3 separate regions of the Homo sapiens genome follow, and regions 1 and 3 are each linked to region 2. The links come from fine-mapping of genetic effects on gene expression. A gene starts in region 2. Each other region holds a variant in brackets. All regions are shown on one strand. Distances are between the middles of the regions. Region 1 overlaps JAK2 (Janus kinase 2). Region 2 holds the start of JAK2 (Janus kinase 2). Region 3 has its middle 46 kb from the start of JAK2.

Region 1 (5,000 bases), 94 kb after region 2:
TGTTTATATAATTCCCTATTTTCCACTAGTAATGCAGATTAAATACACATCTACACTTGTATGACATTTTTTCATATCTTTGAAAATTGATAATCTTCTCAAAAGCAGTGGTTTGGAACCTGTTATATGGAGGTATCTGAGAGGCTCCTGTGGACCATGAAGGAATCCAGGATTGTTTTTGGAAGCCAACACTTGTTTTTCTGGCAAAATATGTTTTATATATTTTTTTAAAAAAGTTTTAAAGATAAAGCAGCGCAAAACATTTCTGTATTTTTTGCAGAATTAAAAGATTAAATGGAGCTAGAACTCAAATTCTCCTTTATGTCTATAGTACTATAGACAATTGTTAGTAATTTTTGTGTGTAGAAGAACTTCAGGAAGGTTTGAATGTCTAAAAAGTTATGTGGAAGAGAAATTGAGAAATTTTCATTTATTTTTAAAAACCAGCCATAATTCAGTACTAATATATAAAGGTGTGCTGGTATATTATATATTATACATTTATGTTATATATAATAATATATAATTGTTTAGACTCCTACTCTTGCTGTTGTAAGTAAACTAAAAACCAAAAATATAATGCTGTGTATCCATTAAGTTTTCTTTAAAGTTGTGAGTTTTGCCAATTTAATTTCTTTACCTATAATGGTCACATGTAAGTATAAAGATTTAAATTACATATATTTAATTATATTTATACTTAAGCCTTATTATTATTACTTATATTTTAATGCAGATATTCTGGTTCAGGAGTTTGTAAAATTTGGATCACTAGATACATATCTGAAAAAGAATAAAAATTGTATAAATATATTATGGAAACTTGAAGTTGCTAAACAGTTGGCATGGGCCATGCATTTTCTAGTAAGTAGTACAACCTTTTTATCAAAAGATACTATTTTATTTTATAAAACAATATACAAATTATCTTTACCTGGAAACAAAAAATAAATCTGTAATTGGATGCCAATTCATGTAAAATAGTCTGTGTTAGGTGATAAAAAGAGATTACTTTAGGCATATGTTTATGTATGTAAAATCACTTTTGAAAAAAAAGTTTTGTCATCCCATCAATATCTTAGAACTACTAATAGACAATCTGTATGTTGTGTCTTTTGGATTTAGAAAATTCAACCAAAAATTATGCAGAAGTATGTGCTTCTGTATTTTTGGGCCATTGTACATTATGGTCCATGAGAAAGCGGTGTTGACAGAGAAGAATACCAGGGGGACTGCCAGTCATCAGACCCCTCAGGGTGCACCTATGTCCTGCTGCAGAACTGAAGTAGTATTTCTTAATGTCAGCTCCCATCCAGAAACACAAACCATGTCAGCCTTAGAACTCATGTGAAATGGCATTGGTAGTTTTAATTTATTCATTTCATCACAAGCATAGATTATTGTGTTATTTAAAATGTAAAACAGGAAGCATAGGAGTCATAAATTTCCTTTTTTCTCAATGCATGCCTCCAAATTATTATACTATCATGTATTTTTCTTCTTTAAATCTGTTTTGGGGGCTTGAACATACTAAATGCTCCAGTACTTGTGGACTGATATTTGAATATATGTGCGTTTAACTCTAATAGGAAGAAAACACCCTTATTCATGGGAATGTATGTGCCAAAAATATTCTGCTTATCAGAGAAGAAGACAGGAAGACAGGAAATCCTCCTTTCATCAAACTTAGTGATCCTGGCATTAGTATTACAGTTTTGCCAAAGGACAGTAAGTTCTAGAAGGATTATATATAATGTTACTAAGCTTTACTTGGGCAGTGGTGTAAAGGGCATGTTGTTAATTTTCCTTGAATTCCATTTAATTTGTATGTTCCTGATTAATAATAAAATTATCACTTTTAGCAATTTAAATTGTTAGTTAAATCTTAGTCTCTATTTTTCTTTCTTATAAGCATATAACCATGGACTGTGAGGTGATTTTTTAAAAACAGTTTTAATCTCTAATTATGTATGAAGGATAGGATTTTATCCATTTTTAGTATGAAGTTTTGTAATATTCCTTGAGCCACAAGTAAATTTTCTAAATATTCTTTTCTTCTCGTCACTAAATAAAAATTTAGCCTGAGATTTTAGGATTTTTTTCTATCCTCTGTGAAGAAATTAGTTTAATTATCCAGCTAATTCTGACTTTTTAAAACCTTAAAAAAACTTTGATTTGTGTTTGTTCATCTTTACTACTTAACACAGTGGGTTAAAAATACAAATTTCAGTCAGATAGTTGAGAGGGGTTTTTTGGGTCTAGATAATTATAACTGAATTTTGTTATCTTAGATAATTTCTCTAATTGGATGTTCTAAATTTAGATTCTAAATTGATCAATTTTTGTGCACTGATGTGTCCTATTTAAGCTAATAGTACTTAAACTTAATGACTTATCTGACAGTGAAGACAGTGATAACTGGGCAGTAGTACAGGAGTAGGGAGTATGGCAGAAAATTCTTACAGGGTCTTACATCTGGTATCCTGGAAAATTTTATCCTTTGGAAT[C/G]GGAAGTGAAGATGGAAAAAAATGTATTCATATGGTGAAGGTATTTGTCAATCAATCTATTTGTCTGTCTGTCTATGTCAGAATACCAGAAAGTAGGGTTATATTGCTTCTTCCTTTCTTGAATACAGTCCTTCTGGTGGAATCAAAGACCACAGAAACTTTACTTGAGAAATTCCGTGATTTGAGCAGAGCCCACCTATATCAATTCCATATATCTAGAATATTTTGGTGCAATTTAGCCTTCCATCTGCCATAAATGCTTGTTGGTCCTTGGGTTTTTTTTTTTATCTGCAAGTGGGAATTGCCATGGCTATTAAATCATTAGAACATCTCTGAATGATGTAACATTACCTTTACTACTTACGCATTATGAAGAAATACCAAAAAGTATCATGGGGCAATTTTAGGATAAACTATATAAAAAAAAAAGATTTGGCCAGGTGCAGTGGCTCATGCCTGTAATTCCAATGCTTTGGGAGGCTGATTGCTTCCTAAAGCGCTTGGGTGGATCACTTAAGCCCAAGAGGTCAAAGCATAGTGAGCTGCAATCGTGCCATTGCACTCTAGCCTGAGTGACACAGTGACACCCTGTCTCAAAAAAAAAATTTTTTTTTTTTGAAGGTAAAACTAATGGAAAGAGGTTGAGAAAATGGTATGCCAGTTGAGACACTATGGTTTAATGGAAAGATTAGTTGATTCAGAACTCACTGTACAGGATTCTAATTCTGTCTCTGCTGCTAACAAATTGTGTGGCTTTGGGCAGATTACTCAATCATATGTCTCCATGTTGTCATTGTTAAAGATGAAATATTGAATTAGATGATCTTGAAGGTCCCTTCTGGTTCTTAAGCTTATGCAGTCATGTGCATGTGCACATCCAACCCCTCCAAAATAAAGAAAATAGGCCTGATTATTCAAATGATTTGAACTTTAAAGCTATTTACATATAAAAGATTGGTTTACTTGTGAATTATTTAACCCTACTCTGTTCGTATCATTTAAAAGTTCTTCAGGAGAGAATACCATGGGTACCACCTGAATGCATTGAAAATCCTAAAAATTTAAATTTGGCAACAGACAAATGGAGTTTTGGTACCACTTTGTGGGAAATCTGCAGTGGAGGAGATAAACCTCTAAGTGCTCTGGATTCTCAAAGAGTAAGTTTATATAGACTAAGTTAGAATTACTCTATCTCTGAACTTTCATATTTCTTTCACATGATTTGTATTTTTTAGCCCATCTAATTTTAAAAAGAAGGTTGGTGTGGCATTACACAATTTATTCTCAGTTTGTGGTTCTTTAATTATAGAAGCTACAATTTTATGAAGATAGGCATCAGCTTCCTGCACCAAAGTGGGCAGAATTAGCAAACCTTATAAATAATTGTATGGATTATGAACCAGATTTCAGGCCTTCTTTCAGAGCCATCATACGAGATCTTAACAGTTTGTTTACTCCAGGTATGTATTTGAATGATCTTATTGATTTTCCAGCTTTCTATCTTTATTGTATTTAATGAATCATTACTAATTTTTAATTCCTTTAAAACATTTTCTTGATGTCATTTGGGCCCTCTTAATTTCTTATGTTCATATGGCTTTTCATGCTTTATACATATTCTAATCTCCTTGACTGAGAATTATTTTCATTTTTATAAAAAGACCTTTTCTTTTTTTTTTTTTTTTTTTTTGAGATGGAGTCTTACTCTGTCGCCCAGGCTGGAGTGCAGTGGCGCGATCTCGGCTCACTGCAAGCTCCACCTCCAAGGTTCACGCCATTCTCCTGCCTCAGCCTCCTGAGTAGCTGGGACTACAGGCGCCCGCCACCACACCCGGCTAATTTTTTGTATTTTTAGTAGAGACGGGGTTTCACCGTGTTAGCCAGGATGGTCTCGATCTCCTGATCTTGTGATCCGCCCGCCTCGGCCTCCCAAAGTGCTGGGATTACAGGCTTGAGCCACCGCTCCCAGCCAAAAAGACCTTTTCTTTCAGTAACCTAATTTTAGTTTTCCATTTAGTGAGTTGTAAATTATAGTATTTTTTTTTTGCTTAAATTGACTTTTAAAAAACAATTCTCTTTAACATTTCTCATATTTTATAATTGATTGATTCTCTAAACATGAGCTGTATTTGTTTTGCTTTGTTCTCTCCTTTTTCAAAATACTGAGCTGAAATGCATGTGTTTGACCTATAGGTGCTTTCTACCCCAGTACTACTCACCTTTCTCACAATAAGTATCAGTATATTACCTTACTTTATGAATACTAAAACTTCTTATTTTGGAAAACAAAATTTTATCCTTTGCAAAGTCTCTCTTGAAGGCCTGTCAGATTATGGGTAATGATTAAAGGCTCCCATTAATATAATTGAAACTATTTGAGTTTCCCTGTATCATTTAGTATTTTTAACTCACGATTATTTTGGTCAACTTGAATGTATATCAGTTTAGTCCAGAGAATGTTATTTGCTAATTTAAGGTGATAATATTCTTTAT
Region 2 (5,626 bases):
TCAAGAATCACTGCTGCCATGCTGGCCAACACTGGAAGGACAAAACCTCAAGACACTACACACAGCCCCACAGTCAACAACTAGCTGTTAAGTTTTCCCATTAGATCTTGCCACAAAGTTTTGAATCTAAATGTGTTACCTTACAGCTCATATTTCTTGTTTCTTCATATTGTATGAATGTTTTGAAAGACTTGGTCAAATTCCTTGGAATTCTTTTCATCATTATCAAAGAATAAGGGAAATTTCCTGAAATGTTTGCCTTGAGTAGCAAATTTCTAGTGATGCCACTACCAGGAATCACATAAAGAGCTCAAAAGTTCTGTTAATACAGAGTGAAAAAAGCTCAACATTCCAGGTTAGCATTGACTTAAAATCATGTCTTAGTGATGAGGGAGGCTTTCACTTTCTGAATGACAGGAGGCAAGTTGCTTCATCTTTCTATGTGGGGAGACAGAAGATTTCTCAATTCTATAGGCTTATGAATAATATACCCCTTGTCCACCTTGTCTTCCATACCCACATCTCTAATATTAAGAAAATAACCTGCTCCCCCACAAAAATATCCTCAATATTCACCACTTCCAAATGGCTTCTCCCTGCAATTCACCAATTTCAAATGGCTTCTCCCTGCAAACAGGCTGTGGACAGTAAGAGATACCATGCCTAGTTACATAAGTATATCACTGCAAAATATAGAAACATCACTTATAATGAAAGTAATACTGTTTCAGAGTTCTAAAACAAGCATTTTCTTCCCCTCACAAAATATCACATTTCCATTTCCACAGTTGTGATGCTTTTCATTTACCCATGACGTTAAGCTCATCTTTAGCTCTTCTTCATTATGTGGGTCTGTGTTCTAGCTTTTACCTCAGTAGCAGTTTTTGTTTGCAGGAAAAAAGGAACTCTTTTGGTAGTCACTGTTTGTAATTGCGGCCTTGATATTCTAAGCCATTGAGTCACAATTAATAATTAGAAATTCTTACTAACTTTGCCCATATATTACCTATGAAGCAGTAGCCGTAGGAATGCAATTTTCCTGTAAATCCCTCCCTCTTATACAGCTCTAGTTCATTATTTAAAAGATTCAGGGTGAATTCAAGTAATTTCCTATGCTGCTATCATTTGCTTAAAGACCTTTTGCAATGGGTCTTATGTAAGAAGAAATGCAGGAGTTGCTTTGGTGAGGTTTATTTAAAGAAACCATTAAGTGCAAGACAGACCTGAAGAGCAGCATCAGTTGTGTATGGGGAAACAGGAGCTATGAATGCGTCACTTCATTTAGGTTGACAGAAAGAGGGCTAATACTTGAAAAAAATCCCTACACGATCTGGTGCCAGGCTACTTCTTTGGCCTCACCTCTTACCACTGCCCCCTCCTTCCGTGTCCTCCAGCCACAGTGACCTCTTTCCTGATCCTTGAACTTGCCAAACACTTTCCCTTCTCAAGGTCTTTGCCTTCAGGAGTCCCTCTGCCTGAAATTCTTTTCCCAGATAGTCATGGGACTGGTTCATTCTCATCCTTCAGATCTCTGCTCAAATGTCACTTATTCTAGGAAATCGTTCCTGGCCACCGTAAAATAGCACACCCCCTCCTCACTTTCTACTCCTTTTCTTTGTTATTATGTATATGGCAGCAGAAAACTATGCATTTTCTTAGTGGCAATTACACACCCCGCACATTATGCATTTAAAGCGTTGTTTGTTGTTTTGTCGCTTCCATCAGAATACAATCCAGTAGGGCAAGGAGTGTGTGGGGTCGTGTTCACCTGGTATCTCTGGGGACCTACAGCCCGGCACCTAGTAGACACTCAGTAAATATTTGAATGAATGAATGAGGCCCTTTGGCAGCCGGGAAGCCCGTCACAGCCGTTGTCTCCACCCTCTCCCGGGCTACACCAGGCCACGCCGGTAAAGTTGTTTCTCCTCTAGGAGAAACATTCGCTAGGCCTTGTTGCCAACCCGCAGGCGGCTGGGCGCTTCATCCCACCCTCACCCCTTTCCAGCCAAGGTGGCTGATGGGAGTCAGGCTCTCGAGGGCGCATTGCCACGAAACAGCGTGTGTGAGCGCGTTGTCCCCGGCCCCCGGCGCCACTTCCCCTCGGCCTAGCAGCCTGGACTGGGGAAGGACGGGTCTGCTGTACCCGGGAGGTGGAAGGAAAAGCCGAAAGCGGAGAAGTGTGCGGGAGGGGAGTCTCCGCGCGGAGGCAGCCCGGCCTCCTCCAGTGCAGGCTGCGCGCTGGGGAGCCAGCCAGGGTGAGTCACTCCCGGCCGCTTCCCTGGAGGGCGGCGGCCACACACACACCCGCCCATCTAGTGAGGGCCGGGCCCAGCGCTGGCGCCTAGCTCCAGCCGGGCACCAGCGTTTCGCGAGGCGCCGCCGCCTTAACTTCCTTGCGCGCTCACGCCCAGGGGCCGTCCCAGGAATCTCCACGCGCGCTCGCCGGCTTCCCGAGAGGCAGCTGCCCTGCGTGGCCCGCGCCTGCCGGTCCCGCGACCAGCACCGAGCGGCGCACGCGCACTGCAGGACGCGCGTCCGGCTCTCCCCCAGCCTCTATCCGGCCCGGTCTCCTGCCATTCGGGGAGACTGCAGGCCAACCGGGAGGCTGAGTTCGAAGCTAGCAGGGCGGCGAAGCCAGTGTCGCCCGCGGCGTTGAGAAGACGGTGTGGCCCCGGAGAGGGTGGAGACAACTGTGACGGGCTTCCCGGCTGCCCGAAGTGGGAGTGGTGTGGGGCTGCAGGAAGGAGAGAGGAAGAGGAGCAGAAGGGGGCAGCAGCGGACGCCGCTAACGGCCTCCCTCGGCGCTGACAGGCTGGGCCGGCGCCCGGCTCGCTTGGGTGTTCGCGTCGCCACTTCGGCTTCTCGGCCGGTCGGGCCCCTCGGCCCGGGCTTGCGGCGCGCGTCGGGGCTGAGGGCTGCTGCGGCGCAGGGAGAGGCCTGGTCCTCGCTGCCGAGGGATGTGAGTGGGAGCTGAGCCCACACTGGAGGGCCCCCGAGGGCCCAGCCTGGAGGTCGTTCAGAGCCGTGCCCGTCCCGGGGCTTCGCAGACCTTGACCCGCCGGGTAGGAGCCGCCCCTGCGGGCTCGAGGGCGCGCTCTGGTCGCCCGATCTGTGTAGCCGGTGGGTGTTATCTCTGCCTGGCTTCTGGGTGGGGGGCAGCAGCTGTCTCTCCACCCCCTTCCTACCTTTTGGTCCCGCCTGCCCCCTGCTAGTGGCAGCAAACTTCTGAGCCAGAAAAATCTTCCTCTTTAAGACGACACCTAGAACGAGTCTTGCTGGTGATATTTGCTTCCATTTGTGTCTTATAATTCCCTCGCTCCCGCCTCCTTATTCCTTTTTAAAATTTTCTAGACACTTAAACAGCCTAGAAAAAGCATTTGTTTCCCCTGGATTTATGTGGTAGTAGTTAACTGCTGCTTCTGTTTTTAGGTTTCAGAAGCAGGCAACAGGAACAAGATGTGAACTGTTTCTCTTCTGCAGAAAAAGAGGCTCTTCCTCCTCCTCCCGCGACGGTGGGTGTGCTGTCCTTTATCGCTGCAGTAAAGGCGAAGGTGTCTGGAGCTGGGAGTGCGTGCGTAGGGAAGGTTGGAAGCGTGTGAAGAGAGGCAGGGCTCATTGTTGCTTACTCTTCTGAAAATGTCAGTGCTAAACTTTTAATGTTGATCTGGGAGAGTAATTTTGGGGTGTTTTGTTGTTCGTCTTGGATCCTTTAAGAAACATTTTTTTGTTGGCTTTACACATAACGTGACTTTGCAGAGAAACGAAAAACGTTGTCCATTACCCTTTCTTCTTAAGCAGCCAGAGATTCTTAATCCTTTAAAGAGGAGTATTTCCAAGCAATAAGAGATAGCTTTTGGGAGAACACGTTAGCTATTCTTGCTGGGGTTTCTGCTACCACATTGAATGTTTCCTCATGGTTTTATCTGCCTAAGCTTGCTGTGTCGGTTGAATTTACCCAGTTTGTTTTCCAGTAATTACTAATCTGTTAGGAGAAACTCCATTTCTCTGAATGAAAGGGTAGGAGCGGCTGAGTATGGAGAAGGAAACTGGAAGTGGGAATAAGGGAAATGATTGCTTTTGGTTTCATAATAAGTTTGTACAGTGAGTTGTTGGGCTACTGCAAATAAAGATTTTGTATCCCTTCTCCAGAATGCTTGGGACCAAAAGTGTTTTGGATTTTTTTTAAAAATTTTGGAATGTTTGCATATACAAAATCAGACATCTTGAGGATGGGACCCAAGTGTAAATACGAAATTCGTTTGTTTCATATAGACCTTATTCACACAGCCACTAAGTCATTTGCAATATTTTTAATACGTCTGTGCATGAAACAAAGTTTGTATTAAGTACCTATGCGGGGAATTTTCCCCTTGTAGCATCATGTTGGTGCTCAAAATGTTTCAGATTTTGCAGCTTTTCAGATAAGGGATGATCAGCTTGTATTTTGATATAACACCCAGAACATTTGAAGATGAATAATCAATTTTTGGCCTCCCTTCCCCCATCCGCCTCACCTTATACCACTTTAAGTGTGAGAATTATTTGCTTGTACATGCATTTGTCTGTTGGTGTGTAACGTATGTACAGACTGGATGTATCCAGCACTTGCCTTAATAGTACATGTATTTACCTGAATAGGAAAGCTGCAGTACTTGCTGGCCAGAAGAGCACACCATGCTTGTTTTTGCTCTAACTGAATATCCTGTATTTGCAATTTATAGCAGTTTTAGGGACTCATTAGGGAATTTTGTGTGTGTGTGCCTTTGGTGATTTGAGACAGGTGTCTCAGATATGGGAAGGGAATATGACATTGTTTCTCTTTCACCTGGCTATTACTGAAAGGTGGGATGCTTTTGAGGCAGAATAGGAAAGTGCATTGGCTTTGGAGTGAGATCTGGATTTGAATCCTGGTGTTCTTGCCACTTAAGAGTTGCATTATTTACGGCTGGTCATGGTGGCTCACGCCTGTAATCCCAGCACTTTGGGAGGCTGAGGAAGGAGGATCACTTGAGGTGAGGAGCTTGAGACCAGCCTGGCCAACATGGTGAAACCCCATCTCTACTAAAAATACAAAAATTAGCCGGGCGTGGTGGTGCACACCTGTAATCCCAGCTACTCGGGAGGGTGAGGCAGGAGAATTGCTTGAACCTGGGAAGTGGTGGTTGCAGTGAGCCGAGATCTCACCACTGCACTCCAGGCTGGGCAACACAGCAAGACTCTGTCTAAAAAAAAAAAAAAAAAGAAAGAAAAAAAGAGTTATATTATTTACGACTCTTTTAGCTTCACTTTCTTATAAGATTGTTGTGAGAAGTGAGTAAGACACATGCAAAGTGGTAAACTGCCTGGCTGTCATAAAAGTCTTGGCTACTATCACGGCTGGGAGGCAAAGGAGATTCAGAGAAGGGCAGAATGACTGCATAAGGTGATCTGCCTGTAACTCGTGTTTCCTCCTTTCTAGTATAAAGAGATAAAGGACTTCAAGGTCTTAAACTGGTGAGGGAGTATTACAGCCTTTGTATGGAAAGGTTTGACTTTGTGTCTCTGCTTAAACCCCCATTGTGTTGCCCCTACCAATTATTGTGCTGCCCCCTTGTGGTTAACTGTGCTAAGACCTTTCTTTTGCTCT
Region 3 (5,626 bases), 46 kb before region 2:
CCCTTTGAATTTCATAAGTGATTTACACTATTAAGTTTACTTTAATTTTAATTAAATATATAATATATATTTAGTTAATATGTAATATATATTTAAACACACACATATCTTTCTTCCAACATTCACATTAGGATTTTTTAATGGTCAAAGAAGATATTTCTGAGTTCAAAACTCAGTTTTAAAGTAGAGTTTGGTAAAGTAGGGACATTTTGCTTTTTGGACATGGCTTTCTCCCTCAGCCTATTTTTGGAGCATGAGATCTTGTGGGCCTAAGTTCTGCATTCACCACATCTCTCCTGAAACCCCTGACTTCCCCTCTGCTACCATCACCCAGGGATCCCCCTTCCCACTCCTGTAACACTTTATGTCTGCTGCTCTACAGTACTTACCACACATCTCCCTCCCACCTGTATCAGATGGTCCTATGGGTAGAAAAATGTCTTATATCTTAGTAGTCCAATGTACCTGGGATGTAGTAAATGTCAGAGTCCGAAACTGTCTTATTTTCCAGATTTGGGCTTTGTAATAAAGGCCTTTTGAAGATAATGCCTAGGTCTTTGATATGTAATTTTAGGTAAAAAGAAAACTGAAGGAATGACTCTAATGGTAGAGGTTTCCGGCTGGAAAAGAGGATAGTGTTATTAGAGTCTGTGGGTAATTTGGGGGACAGAATGGTCTTCCTGGTAGTCCTTGAATCATACAAAGTCAATGATAGTTAGCTTGGTGTACCTGCTTGTTAAGATGGGCCTGGACAATGCTCTGACTTGTTGGGAAATAAGTAGAGTGAACAACAGTGTCTGTTTGTCTGGGACTGTCCCCATGTTAGCATGGAAAGTTCCATATCTTGGGAAACCCCCAGTCCTGGGCAAACCAGAGCACTGGTCACCCCATACAATCCAAATATACAGTGGAGTATGGCCTCTTAACTGTCACATTAACGTGCTGATAACTTGGACTCTAGTACTTGTAGGGAAAAGATAAATCTTCAAATAAGTAAACAACTAGCCCAGTTTGGGAGGATGTCAGTTCTGCTTTCTCATTAAGATAAGGCAATCTTAAAATCATTAGAGAACTCACAAATGTGGCTATAAAAATAACAACAGTTACATAATTAGATTTCCTTGGCTGAAACCACTAATAAGACATTGCCAAATTTTAGCTTATTGTTGAAGATAAATCTCTCTCACCCATTCTCTCTCTCTCTTACACACACACGTGCACACACACACACACAATTTTTATTTTTCTGGCTTAGCATACTTTTATTTTAATTATAGGTTTTATCGTTTTTCACCATGTTAACAGAACAAAGTTGGTTTGTTGTTGAAGGATATGATTTAAATGGATAGCTATTGCTGTGGTTTACTGAAAGCACAATACTGCATTATTTTGAAAATATGTTTAATGAAGCATATTTTCATTTAAAGCATACCTGTACTTAATGGAAATTTTTGAGATCCATCATTTCTAAAGATGAAGAGAAGAGGCTGTGTAGCCACCAAATGCTTGCTGGCCCTCTAACGCCTAAAGTGCTACATTTATTTATTATAAGAATATAGAGATAATAAGACTGTTTATGAATTACAAATCAATAATGAAATAACTCTTGGGCTAAGGACAAAATCAAATGGAAATTATAAATCACATAAATATGAATGGGCACAGAAGCATTACTCTACAAAATCTGTGGGGTATGGTCAACATGTTGTTCAGAGGGAAATCTATAGCTTTCAATGTCCATATCAGAAAAGAAGAGACATGGAGAATAAATTAACCAAACTTTCAAATCAAAATTTAACTTCCTAATTCAACCATCAAACAAACAAACAAACAAACAAACAAACAAATAAAACACAAAGTAAAGAGAATGGAAAAAAATGTAATGGCAGGAAATAATGTGATAGAAAAGGATAATAGAGGCTGCTGAACTTGAGGAAATCCTCCTTTTACACAACAAGGATGTCAGCTGCCCAGACTCTGACTTGGAGACTCACCTCCCAGCCCAAGGAATATGCGTTATGAGAGTAAGAAATACATGATTACACCTCTGCATGGATGACTGCAAAGGGGACAATAATAACTAACAATAAGACCCATGTGTCAAGCATTATGCCAGGCAGCTTATATAAATTATATGGTTTAGTTGTATTTCTTCCTCATTTTCTGATAAGAATATTGAAACACAGGATGGCCTAGTAATTTCCTCAATACTGAGGGACAGTAATTAATGTAGCTGGAACTTGAACTTCAGAAGGGTTATTAAGTGGGGTTTAATTTACCACATGTTGTTAAAGATGCCATTGGCTTTAGAAACATCTTGTTTTGAAAATTCGTATCTGTTTGGGAAGATCATGATACTATCAGTCGGTCATGCTTTAGAGTGAAATGGTTCAAACAGATTGCTTTCCTTTCAACAGCTAGCTGAGGTTAGCTGTGTTAAGAGAATGGGAGTTTTGAAGTGGTTAAAGAGAAAGAAGTAATGCAGGAGTGGCACTGCTTAGAGGCTAACACCCCCATCGGAATACTGGGCAGCTGGTAAGCAAAAGTACAGAAAGGGAAGTGAGAAGATGCCAAAGATAAACTCTATTTCAAAATTCTGACTATGGTCAGCCCCACCCTCAAGAAGAGAGGGACAGGTTCTTCCTCTTTTTCTGTCCTGTACAAAGCAATCTCCTATTCCCAGGACCAGGAAGTTCAGGTCCAAGGGCCACTCTAAGGAAAATAGAGTTGGAAGGGACTTTAGGGGTCCTATCCAGTCTACTCACCACAAGGCCTCCCACACCCTCCTGCATGAATCCTCCAAACTCCTCCTGACCATCTTTGCATCTTTGTTGCTCCTTTGTTGTCTATTTGGGGCTCGAGTTAGTTGTTAGAAATTCCTTTCTATCAGCCAACAATCTTATCTCCCTTCAACTTCCCCTCATTTGTCTTATATCTGCCCCTGGAATTGCCCAGTCTGTGTGGTATTTGTTCCAATGGAATTTGATCTGTCATATACTGTTGCTTTTGGCTGATTTGCTAAATTGACTGGATCTCTCTCTAAACTCAATGATTTGGATCAAGGTAAATGCTGGTAAAATGTGCCAGCAATTTCTTTTTCAGAAAGATCTTGCTATTGCTCTGTTACTTTTGTTTGTTTGTTT[T/G]TTTTTAAAGAATGTTCCCAATAGATTCATTTTGAGGGAATAGATTCACCTATGAATCCATGGAGTGACCCACACAAAACACCTACATAAAAAAGAAACAAAAAGAGTATGTTTTCTTACTGACAAACACTACTTGAAAGCTCTTCAAGTCCTTCGTGGTATAATAAAGTAAATAGATATTGAGAAGAAGAGATCATCTAGTTAACAAACATGGAAAAATGTTCCACCTCACTTTTAATTTTAAAAGTGATAAGATACCCCTTCCATTCATTTGGCTACAAAGCATAGCAACATTTATAATAATATTTAATGTTTGTTAGTACTATAGTACATTACCAGTAGAATTAGAAACGTCTTTTAGAAATTGATTTAGCTATATGTATTGAGATCTTTTAGTTTTATTTATTTAGTAATTTTTAGAGGCAGGGTCTTGCTATGTCGCCCAAGCTGTTCTTGAACTCCTGAGCTCAAGGGATCCTTTTGCTTCAGTCTCCCAAGTAAGTAGAATGACAGGTGCAAGCCACTGCACCTGGCTATCAGGAGATTTTAAAATATTCTCATCCTTTCACCTAGTAGAATCTCCTGGGTATTTGTACTAAGGAAATAATCCAGAGATTAAAAAAATATGCCTACGGTTTGCACTTCTCACAGGAAAATTATTCATAATAGTGAAAAATTAGTCACAGCCTAAAATCTAACAACAGGAAATAGTTTAACTAGATTATGGTGCATCCACTCAATGGAAGATTATACAGCCATTTCAAATAACGATTATGAAAAAAACATTATATGTAATCTATATTGTCCTAGTGGAAATATCTTAGGTAAGTCAATGGTAGCGAATCAGAAAAATATTGAGACTCAGTAGTTTTTAGCCACATGAAAAATTCTTGCAGTATATAAAAAACAATGTATACAAAGAAATGCACCAAAATTATTATTATGACAGAAAAAGGGTGGGAGAAGTGTTTTTATATTTAATCAAGAGCTGTACTGTATAACTGAATTGTTTGCCAGCGGAGCAGAAGGCAGATGGCTTGGTTAAACTCACACATTCTTGCCCACTCCAGCTATTTTTATAAGGCTCTTACGGTTTTAGGATTTTCTTACATTTTTGTTGATTCTTGTACTCTATTTACTTCTTCTCCAACTTCATTATGGAATATTATCTAGTGTTTATTATTTGTCTGGGGTCCCCATTGATATTAGCAAAAAACACTGGTCATTGGGTTGTACTTGATTATTTGAGTCTTCAAAGCTCCTTGTCATTGCATATTGCGGGACTGAGAGTTAATATAAGGATATGATTCTATCAATCAATTTTCACAGATATATATGTCACTGAACACGAAATATGGGATATATTAGTCAGCTATTGTTACAATGCTGAGTAATAAACAGCTCCAAAACTCAGTGGCTCATAAAAATAAGCCTTTATTTTCCTTGTTCATGAGCCTGTGGATGATCTGGGATGCTCTGCTTCTTTTGCAGGACAGCTGGGCTTATATCAAAGCCTCAAGTTGGGATCAGGCCTGCTTCACATGTTCCCAAATCCCATTAGCTATCTGAGGCATATTCTTCTCCTGGTGGATTATGAAAGGCAAGAGGCCAAGTCAGGAGAATTGCTTGAACCCAAGAGGCAGAGACTGCAGTGAGCCGAGATTGTGCCACTGCACTCCAGTCTGGGTGACAGAGTAAGACCCTGTCTAAAAAAAAAAAAAAAAAAAAAAAAAAAGAGGCCAAGTCAAACTACTTAAGGCCTATGCTCATGTGTGCTATCATTTAATTGATCAAACCAAATCACATATGTAATTATGCCCAACATCAATGAGAGAGGGAAATAACTCCCATTAGAAGTTCACCTGACAGAAGGAGGGGGTAAAGAATTGAGAGCAATGATCTAATGTACCATAGGGACAATGTACAAACAGATTAATTTAAATAATTGGAAAGAAATACCTACTGACTTGCAGAATAGGTAGGATTATCTCCATGTGTGAAAAATATCCTATTTTTCGATTAGACTAATGAAAACTTAATAAAATAGTTGTTACCATATATTTCTTTTAAAGAATATGCAGTATCAATATATTTTAAGGACAGCTAAACATCCTGGGTGTTTAGCCAAGTAGAAACTGGTCCAGCTTTGACTATCCTGGGTGTTTAGCCAAGTAGAAACTGGTCTAGTTGTAAGTGGATTTTTTTGTTGTTGTTTATTCTTGGGGACCGAGTCTCGCTTGGTCACCCAGGCTGGAGTGCAGTGGTGCGATCTTGGTTCACTCCAACTTCTGCCTCTGGGGTTCAAGAAATTCTTGCGCCTCAGCCTCCCTAGTAGCTGGGACTACAGGTGTGTGCCACTACACCTAACTATTTTTTTTATTTTTATTTTTTGTATTTTTAGTAGAGATGGGGTTTCACCATGTTGGCCAGGCTGGTCTTGAACTCTTGACCTCAAGTGATCCACCCGCCTTGGCCTCTCAAAG

The links. PIP is the estimated chance that this variant, and not a neighbour inherited with it, causes the effect. A credible set is the group of variants that fine-mapping cannot tell apart.
Region 1: its variant is the best candidate, but not a certain one, in a credible set for the expression of JAK2 in whole blood (TOPMed, PIP 0.68).
Region 3: its variant is the best candidate, but not a certain one, in a credible set for the expression of JAK2 in whole blood (TOPMed, PIP 0.86).

What each region holds. Positions count from the first base shown.
Region 1 is chr9:5,076,717-5,081,716 of GRCh38, forward strand. It overlaps JAK2 (Janus kinase 2), which reads left to right. Exons shown (of 25, transcript NM_004972.4): 15 at 737-864; 16 at 1,590-1,728; 17 at 3,513-3,664; 18 at 3,817-3,967. It also overlaps a transcript of INSL6 not described here. Among named protein-coding and RNA genes, the nearest start is that of JAK2, 94 kb to the left of the region's middle. The variant C/G (reference allele first, on the strand shown) is at 2,508.
Region 2 is chr9:4,982,511-4,988,136 of GRCh38, forward strand. JAK2 (Janus kinase 2) reads left to right here and starts at 2,762. Exons shown (of 25, transcript NM_004972.4): 1 at 2,762-3,120; 2 at 3,430-3,512. RefSeq lists silencers at 715-844, 2,295-2,344, 2,385-2,464, 2,855-3,184 and enhancers at 1,813-2,646, 2,575-2,714, 3,515-3,564.
Region 3 is chr9:4,936,711-4,942,336 of GRCh38, forward strand. No RefSeq gene overlaps it. Among named protein-coding and RNA genes, the nearest start is that of JAK2, 46 kb to the right of the region's middle. The variant T/G (reference allele first, on the strand shown) is at 3,144.